Regions from separate parts of the Homo sapiens genome. Here region 1 is linked to region 2. Evidence: fine-mapped expression QTL. A gene starts in region 2. The other region holds a variant in brackets. All regions are shown on one strand. Distances are from middle to middle. Region 1 overlaps NFIX (nuclear factor I X). Region 2 holds the start of NFIX (nuclear factor I X).

Region 1 (4,215 bases), 82 kb before region 2:
AACTGTCTTTGAAAAAAGAAAAAGAAAAACAAACAAAAAAACTGGTGTTTGCTTACCATACCCTTTTTTTTGCAATAGTTTGGATTTTAAAACATATTCCATTAAAATATTATTTATCTTGATGACTGAGTTTTTGATACTTGCTGACACTCTGCACCTAAGGTGAGTGCCTCACTAGCCCTGCCTTAATTCAGGCCCTGGGTGGGAGACTGGGTGGGGGACAAGAGGAGGCAGAGGGTTCCCTGGGGCTCTGGATGAAGACAAAGCCAGCATCTGCTCAGGATGGCCGTCTGACATATGCACACACATCTCCTGAGTGCGAGCTGGTGTGCACCCAGCCACCGCCACCTAGGCGGTGTTCTCATGTGCTCAGCCTCATCACTCACACACGTGTCCTCACATACGCGTCCTTGCACACGCAATTCCCAACCCAGAGCAGGCCCCAGCTCTTCCTCCTCCCGTCTGTTTCCAATCAGCTCGCTCTTGCTCTCGGTTTCATTAGGGGGCTGAGGAAACTTGGCTTCTCTCTGGAGTTCATAAAAGCTGAGGTGGAGCCGGAGGAGCCAGGCCTGCGCCCTCCTGCTGCCTGTGTAGAGGGCCTGGGCTCCCCACCCCCACCTCGCGGCCACCACACCCTGCCCCAGCACCGGCTGCCTCTGGGCTCCCAGCCAGGAGGCCCCAAGGAGGAAGCCAGGAGGTAAACCTCCTCATTTTCTGTGTCCTACATACGAGCCCAGGAGATGGCAGGCGGACATAGGGCCATATCCAGAAAAAGTCCAGGCCTCTTGCTGCCAGGTGGGTGCCCAGAGAGGGAAGAAGAAAGTGAAGGAGTGACAGGGCTGAGGTCTCAGCTCCCACAGCCTCCTGCCTGATCCTATCTCCTCAGGGCGATCTAGGTGTTCTCATCCTGAGCACCTTCTCAACTGGGACACTGAAGTCAGAGAGCAGCCCCACGGCAGTGGGCAGTTCCTTTTCCTGGGGAGCAGCCCAGGTACCACCTGTCCCCTAGACCCAGCCCTTCCTTTCTAGAAAGCGGCAGGGAGGCCCAGACAAGGTAGCTACTTGCCGCAGGAGCCTGGGCTCCTTAGGAGTACTCTTCTCCATCCAGGCCCCACATCAACCTGGGCTCATGCTGGCAAAAATCCAGAGCCTGGGCTCAGCCAGGAGCTGGGAGAGAGGAGCCGGCAGGAAGGCAGAGCAGAAGGCTGTGCCTTCCCGCTCACAGCTGGCAGGACAAAAGGAGAACTGGGCCAGAGTTGGGGAGGACTCGGGACAGGCTTGTGTTGTATGTAGCACCCATGCACGTGAGGAGTGAGAAGTGGGAGGTTGCTCAGGAGCCAGGTGGGCAGCCCAGGGGCCCGGCCTGGTCCTCGATGAGGTGCTACGTGAAGCAGGGGCCGGCTCCCATGCCCACCCGCTGCTGCACCTTGGCCCACTTGGAGAGCGTGGGGCTGTCACTCGGGGTCAGCTCTGGCCCCTTCACCTGGCCAGCTGCCCCTAGATACTCAGCCACCTCCCCAACTGCCCCCCTCCGGGGCCCCCCATTTCTCACCTGGTCTGACTCCAGCAAGCACAGGCAGCGGGTGGTGGGTGAAAGCCATGCGCGGGGAGCTGCCCTGAGAGGAGAGGGCACTGCAGAAGTCCAGCTTTCCTGACTTCTTTAGAGAAGCCGGGCCTGGGGGGAGGAAGCAGCAACACAGGGCAGGTTTAGCTGGGCTGGGGTGGGTGCGGGGAAGGC[G/A]GGAAGCCAGCAGCTCGCTCCTTCTCTCCTCAGCCCCTCCCCACTGCCCCTTCCTCCACTGTGCTCCCTCCTGCTGCTCCTTGCCCAGTCCCAGGCCTTGTTCTAGGCCTGGTTCCGAGGCCCTGTGTGTAGGCCAGCCAAGGGGTGCTTCTAACCAGAGAGGAAAACGAGGCCCCTGGGTAATGTGGGGTGGTGTGTGCCAGGCAGGGGGTGAGCAAGGGCCCCAGCCTATGCCCTGGCAAGCAGGTAATGAAGTGAAAGGGTGGGATGCAGGACCAACATTGGGAAAGGAGTGCAGGAGGAACCCCAGGGCGCCAGCTTGAGAGCCGGGAAGGGGTAAGTTTGGGAGGGACAGGCTGGGGTCTATGCCATGGTGCCCGGGGCCATGGGAGGTTCTGGTGGGAAGAAGCCAGGGCCCCGTTTAGGGAAGGGAGCACACAGCCATGAGCCCTCAGGAGGGACACAATGCCCAGCGAGAGAGCAGGGACAGAGGCCAGAGGACCTGGAGAGTCCTTGGGCTGCTCAGGCCTAGCCGGGCTGTGCAGGCAGAGCCAGAGGGGAGAAGACTCCCCCAGCCAGGGGACCCAGAAGCTCAGCTGCCATAGGATGGATAATTTCAGGGCTCTGCCCTGCTTCTGGTGCCAGAGGTGTGGGTGGCATTCAGCATGAAACAAGGGCACAGAGAACACCTTGTTTGAAGTCTGTCTTTAGAAATTCATCTCTGCCCAGTGGCCATAGCATCCAAATGACAAAGCAGGGCCCCCAGGGGGCCAGGTTCTTCTGGAAAGATCAGCTCCCATCTTGGGCTGAGCTTTAAGGTTGTGCCCAGGCTGGGAAGGATAAGGTAGAGTTGGGGCAGATCTCACAGCTGCCACCCTTGGAGGACAAATCAAGTCAGTTTGGGTGAGGGGTGGAGGGGCTGCAGAACAGAGAAATAAAGAGCCATCTTAACTGCAGAGGGAAGGGGCGGGGGAAGGGCGAACTCCCAGCCGCCAGCGGAGGTGTTATCTGGCAGCAGCTGTGTGCCACCTGATAGCTGGCACAGTGGGGAGGGGGGAGCATCCTACCAGCTGTGCACAGCTGTCCCCATGGCCGCACAGTGCCTCCCCAGCTGTTCCCTGTCCTGCAGCTGGGCTGCTTAATTGGCAATTTGTTGCAGCCCATGAAAACAACACACAGCGGGGTGAGGGGAAAAGGGAGCCGGAGGGTGCTGCAGGAGGATGTTGAGGGGCCGTGCGTGGCAGGACTGCCGGAAGGAGCAGAAATGCAGAAATGGCAGGCGCAAAAGCAGACAGCCAAGAAAGGAGAGAGCAGGAGCCAGGAAGAGGGGGGCTCCTCAGGAATTAGGTCTGGGCACAGGAGCCCAGGAGCCCTTGCCCCAGGAGCCAGCTGCAGACACAGTCCTCTATGCACCCCAGGGGCAGTCCTTGCAGAAGGGGTCACCTACTGAGGCCCCGGCCAGGGACCCAGGATGTAGCCCAAGAGTCTCCCGGGCCTTCTCAACTCCTCTCTCTGCCTCTCAAGGCTCCCCTAGGGAAGCATGTGGCCCATGCTGGCCCAAGTCCCTGCCTGCCACGAGGAGAGCCTGGGAGGGGCCCCAGAGTCACGCAAGGAAGCCTTCTCACAGAGGCCAGCCTCTGCTGGCCATCTAGAGGGTCTCCAGCCCACTCCCTCAGCCTGAGGCCTGGAGGCGAGCCCTCCTTTCCTCCTCCCAGGAGGAGGAGAAGCTGCCAGAACTTGCATTCGTTCTGGGGCAGCAGAAAAGCAGGAGTGCTTCCCAGCCCCACCTCGCTCCACCCCAGACTCTGCCTGCCCACTTGGCCCTTCCCAGTAGGGGCATATCTGGAAAACATCAGACAAAGTACCATTAGGTCAGACCCTCACCTTTTGGAGGAGGAGAATGATGCCCAGGGCCCAGGCCTGTCCAGAGCAGCCATGCCCTGTGCACAACCCACACGCGTGAGTCTGCACTCCCAGGCCCTGTCACACCCACAGTGAGGATAAACACGGGCTGTACCACTGGCACGTCAGCGGGGGACTCTTGCGGCCAGCCTCCTCACACACATGTGCTCATGCACATGCACACACACACACGCACGTGTTACATGCTGTCTTCCAGAGTCCTCTCTAGGTCTGTCTGCACCCTCAGTCAAGAATGGAGGTGAAGGGGGGTGGGTTCAACAAGAAGAAGATCCCTAGAGGAGACTGGGAAGGTCTGAGCTGGCTTCCTCTGTACTCTCTCCCCTTCGCTAGCTTCCCTACCTGGTCTCAAAAGGACTCTGCTCATTCTTCACTAGACTCTGAGCCTCTCTCTGTGAAGCTGGGCCCTTGAGACCAGTGGTTCTCATCCTGGGAGGATTCCATCCCACTAGGGAACGTCTGACAATGTCTGGAGGCGTTTTTGGTCATCAAAACTGGGGGTGGGGGTTTTGCTGCTGGCATCTTGTAGGTGGAGGCCAGGGATGCTGCTAAACATC
Region 2 (4,215 bases):
ACCGGCCATCGCCCTGGGTCTCGCAGCCGCCCCAGCCCCTTCCTAGCCATGTCACCGGCGTATCCACAGGCATTTTCTCTCCCAGGGTGCTGTGAAATCTGAGGGGCTGGTGTCTCACCCAAGCCATGGGGGAGCAGGCTCAGATGTCTGGCGTGCTTGGCATGGGAGGCCGGGCTGGCAGCCTGGTGGGCAAGGGGCTGCTTGAGCGTGGGGTCTTGGTTCCACTAGGCCCCAAACATCGGCCACACAGCCCAGCCAAGTGTAGCACCAAAGAGGCCCAGCTCAGACACCGCTGGGTAGGCAGTTGTTGTGAGGGGCGCCCAACATGGAGTGGCCGTGGAACTGGAGGTGCAGATGTGGGGGTTCCCCACACTGCCATGGTGCTCAGGGTGCCTGCTCACACCTGCATGCACACTGCAACATGTATGCATGCCGGTGCGCCCTCGCCAACACGTACTTGGGCCTGCTTTCTACAGGAAAACCCGCTCCCTGGGCCACACACACGGCCATGCCACGCAGGCCTGCCCATGGCCGGCCCACAGGGGCTACACACAGACTCTAGATTGATTCACACTTGCATACACTCTCACCTGTGCATACAGGAGTGTGGTGTAGCCACAGCTGACACACACCCCGACAAACCCCTCGCCCCTTGACACCACTGCACACTCCCGGTAGGACCCAGACAAAGTAGGAGCCATACCCATGTGGACTGCCACTGTAAGCTGTGGACACACTTGGCACATGGCTGACAAGGATCAGGCTGGGCAGAGGGGACAATTAGGGCCTGGCCTAGAGAACCCCCACATGCAGGCCTGGCTGGCAGCAGGGCTAAGCAGCCCCTAGATGTCCCCTCTTCGGAGACTGTTACCAGCTGTGGCTTGGCCCTGCAGGCAACGCTGTCAGGGCCACTGTGGGACTCTGGGCAGCTTCTGTGCCCTCTTAGAGCCTCAGGCCACAGCCCAGGGAGAGTTGGGTGGCCCGACAGGCATCCTCGAAGCTTTTGCCGCAGCCGTGCGCCGCGCAGGGAACTTCGCTGCAGGCGGGACGCGCTCTAGCAACGCGCCAAGGTCGGCGCTGTTGTGCCCGAGGCTGACCCGACGGTGTGGCCGCAGCACTGTCGGCTGTGTCCACGGCTGCCTCCCGCCCCTCCCGCCTCCAGGCGACGGGACGGGATTCCCCAGGCCTGCCGGGTCCACTCCGCAGCAGCCCGGGTCGCTGGGGCCAGAAAGTTTGCGCCGAGGAAAGTTTGGGGGTGGGGGGGCAGAGGCTGCGACGTCCGGGGTCGGAGAGGCGCGGCCACCGCTGGCAGCGCGCCCGCCCCCCTCTCCCCTCCCCTGCCCCTCCGAAATTTGGGAGCCCCGCCATTTTCTTAGCCCCGCTCCCATGTGAGGCCTAAACAAAGACTTTGGGGAGACGCCCGGGCCGCTCGGCCCACCCCAGGCACCCCGGCCGCACGCAAGGGCCGCCGCCACGCACGCCGGCCACTGCCACCCTCGGGAACCGCTGCGCCCTCCCCAGGAAGCGTCGCGGGACCCAGTGTCCCCTCTGCGCCCTCGGGACCACCCTCTTGCCACTCTGTCAACCCCGCAAACACTGCCAGCGACCACGCTGCCCGGGTGCGCGCTACAGTAGCCCACAGGTCAGCCGGAGTCCCGCTGCCCATCGCACCCCAGTCGAGCGCGCACACACACACACACACACACACACACACGTACACGCACTCCCGCCTGCGCTCCACGGGCAGCGCCACGACGCAGCTGGCCACCCCCGGAACCCCCAAAAGGAGTCCGCCCGGTGGCCAGGGTCGCACGCGCACGGTGACGCCCGCACGCGTGCCTGGGCTCCCCGCGGCACAGCCTGCACCCCTCGGCGGCCCGCGGGCTCTCGGCCCCCCCTTCCCGGCCGCCGCGCGTCCCCTCCGCCCGCGCCGCCGGCCGGCCTCCCGCGCCCGCTCCCCTCCCCCGGTCGCGCGGGGGCGGCGGCCGGTACCTGGGTGAGGCAGTACGGGGAGTACATAGCTGGGCGCCCGGGCGGGAGCGCGGCGGCCGGCCGCGGCGAGGGGAGGCCCGGCAGGCGGCGGCCGCGCTCGGGCTCGGGCTCCGGCTCGGCTCCTCCGGCCTCCGCCGCGCTGCGCCCGCCCGGCCCGCGGCCCCGCGCTCGGCCCGGCGCCGCTCCGCGCTCGCCGCTCGCAAGCTCGGCCCCGCCGGCTCCGGGGCCGCCGCTGCCGCCGCCGCCGCCGCGCTCGCCGCTGCCTCTCGCGTCCGCCGCCGCCGCCGCTGCCGCCGCGCGTCTACTCCATGCCGCCGCCGCTCGGCCGGTCACCCTCGCCCGCCGCCGCCGCCGCCGCAGCCGCCGCGCTGTGAAAGTGAAAGTTTAGACAAAGTTTGGAAGCGGCGCACTCCGGGGAGAGGGAGCGGGCGGGCGGCGCGGGCGGGAGGAGGGGCGCGGGGAGGGGCGGGCAGGGCGGGGGAGCGGCGGCCGGCGCACACACACAAGCACACACATGCACACACACACACGAACACACGCACACGCGCGCGCGGGGGCGCACACCGACGCGGCCGCCCTGACACGTGCTGGCCCGCGTTCCAGCGCAGACACACGCTGACACGCAGCGGGACTCGGACCCCGCCACACATGTCACGTCCAGAACGCCTGGCCACACGTTCCGCCTTCGAACACAAAGCACACTCGGACACCAGTGCACACAAGGCACAGACACACAACCCCTACACACGGGCACACACACACAGCAGTCTGGGAAAACACCCACGACCCACGCTCTGACATGCACCGTCCCACCATGGTATCCAGGCACACAACAAGGAACCGCGTATAGACATACACCAAAGCAGGCGTCACGTAGACACACACTGATATACACGAAGACACACCAGTGCATGACACATAGAGATGCACACTGATGCACACACACTGACGCATGTTCCTGCAGAACACAGACACATGCAAGATCACACAGCCACACGCTGACACCTTCCAGACACACAATTCCTACACGCAGACACATACACAACACACACACATCGCAGTGCCAGAACACACTGGCAGTTGTGGCAGTACACCCCGATGTACAGAATGACACTGATGATTGAGAGGCCGAGGCCAGTGGATTGCTTGAGCTCAGGAGTTCAAGACCAGCCTGGACAACATGGCAAAACCCCTCTCTACCAAAAATACAAAAATTAGCTGGGTGTGGTGGTGGATGCCTGTGGTCCCAGCTACTTAGGAGGCTGAAGTGGGGGGATCCCTTGAGCCCGGGGAGGTCAAGGGTGCAGTGAGCCATGATAGTGCCATTGCACTCCAACCTGGGTGACAGAGCAAGACCCTGTCTGAAAAAAAATAACTAAATAAATAAGATGACACTAATGAAGGGAAGATACACAATGTCACATAAACACACACCAAACACCTGGAAGTGAATGCAAAGGACCCCAATACAAAGAGATACACAGCGTCACAGATACAAAGCAACACTGGCTGTCACAACACAACACACAGACACACACACACACACACACACTGGGTTGCCCAGATGTACCCACAGGCCTTGGACACACTGACCAACTGATGCCCAGGCGGCTGACAACCCCCCTGGGAGAATCATCTAGCCATGCACACAGGGATCACACACATACACCCATGTCCCTTACGTGCCCCCCCCCCAACACACTTGTAATGTGGCCCTGATCATCGACATAGGCAAATATAGCAGGAGACCCACAGCTCAGCTGTCAGGGACAGAATTGGGCATCAGGGCCTCCGTACATGTACACACACACACACACACTTTGGTGAGGTTCCAGCCCCTCTTGCGGGCCCTGACTCCTCATTTTCAGAACATAAAGGCCTGGGGGGAGAGGTAGTGCTGGGGACCCTGGAGCAAGGGGAGAGGAAGCCCTCTGGTAACCCTCAGGGTGGGTGGGGAGGCAGTGCCTACAGCCCCCAGGCAGCTCCTGCTGAGACAAAACACCCGCCTGCTGCCAGGTGCAACCAGCACCTTCTTGCTCTCTTGGGCCAAAAAGCTGTGGCAATTCTCAGCTATGCATTGTCTGTTAAAGGGGGTGTCAGTGCCCAGGGCGGGGGGTGCGCACGCACACAGGGTTGGCTGTGCCCATTGGGCTCTTGCAAGCAGGCACAAAAGTATGCATGTGTACGTGAGTATGTGTGTAAATGTCCCAGAAACGATATGCT

What was found.
Region 1: its variant is fine-mapped to the expression of NFIX in blood mononuclear cells (TOPMed, PIP above 0.99). The same link has a PIP of 0.9 or more in T cells and whole blood.

Annotation. Positions count from the first base shown.
Region 1 is chr19:13,076,073-13,080,287 of GRCh38, reverse strand. It overlaps NFIX (nuclear factor I X), which reads right to left. Exons shown (of 11, transcript NM_001365902.3): 7 at 1,553-1,675. Among named protein-coding and RNA genes, the nearest start is that of LYL1, 25 kb to the left of the region's middle. RefSeq lists an enhancer at 2,902-3,837. The variant G/A (reference allele first, on the strand shown) is at 1,739.
Region 2 is chr19:12,993,642-12,997,856 of GRCh38, reverse strand. It overlaps NFIX (nuclear factor I X), which reads right to left and starts at 2,382. Exons shown (of 11, transcript NM_001365902.3): 1 at 1,993-2,382. The coding sequence starts at 2,019. RefSeq lists an enhancer at 1,513-2,101 and a silencer at 2,276-2,435.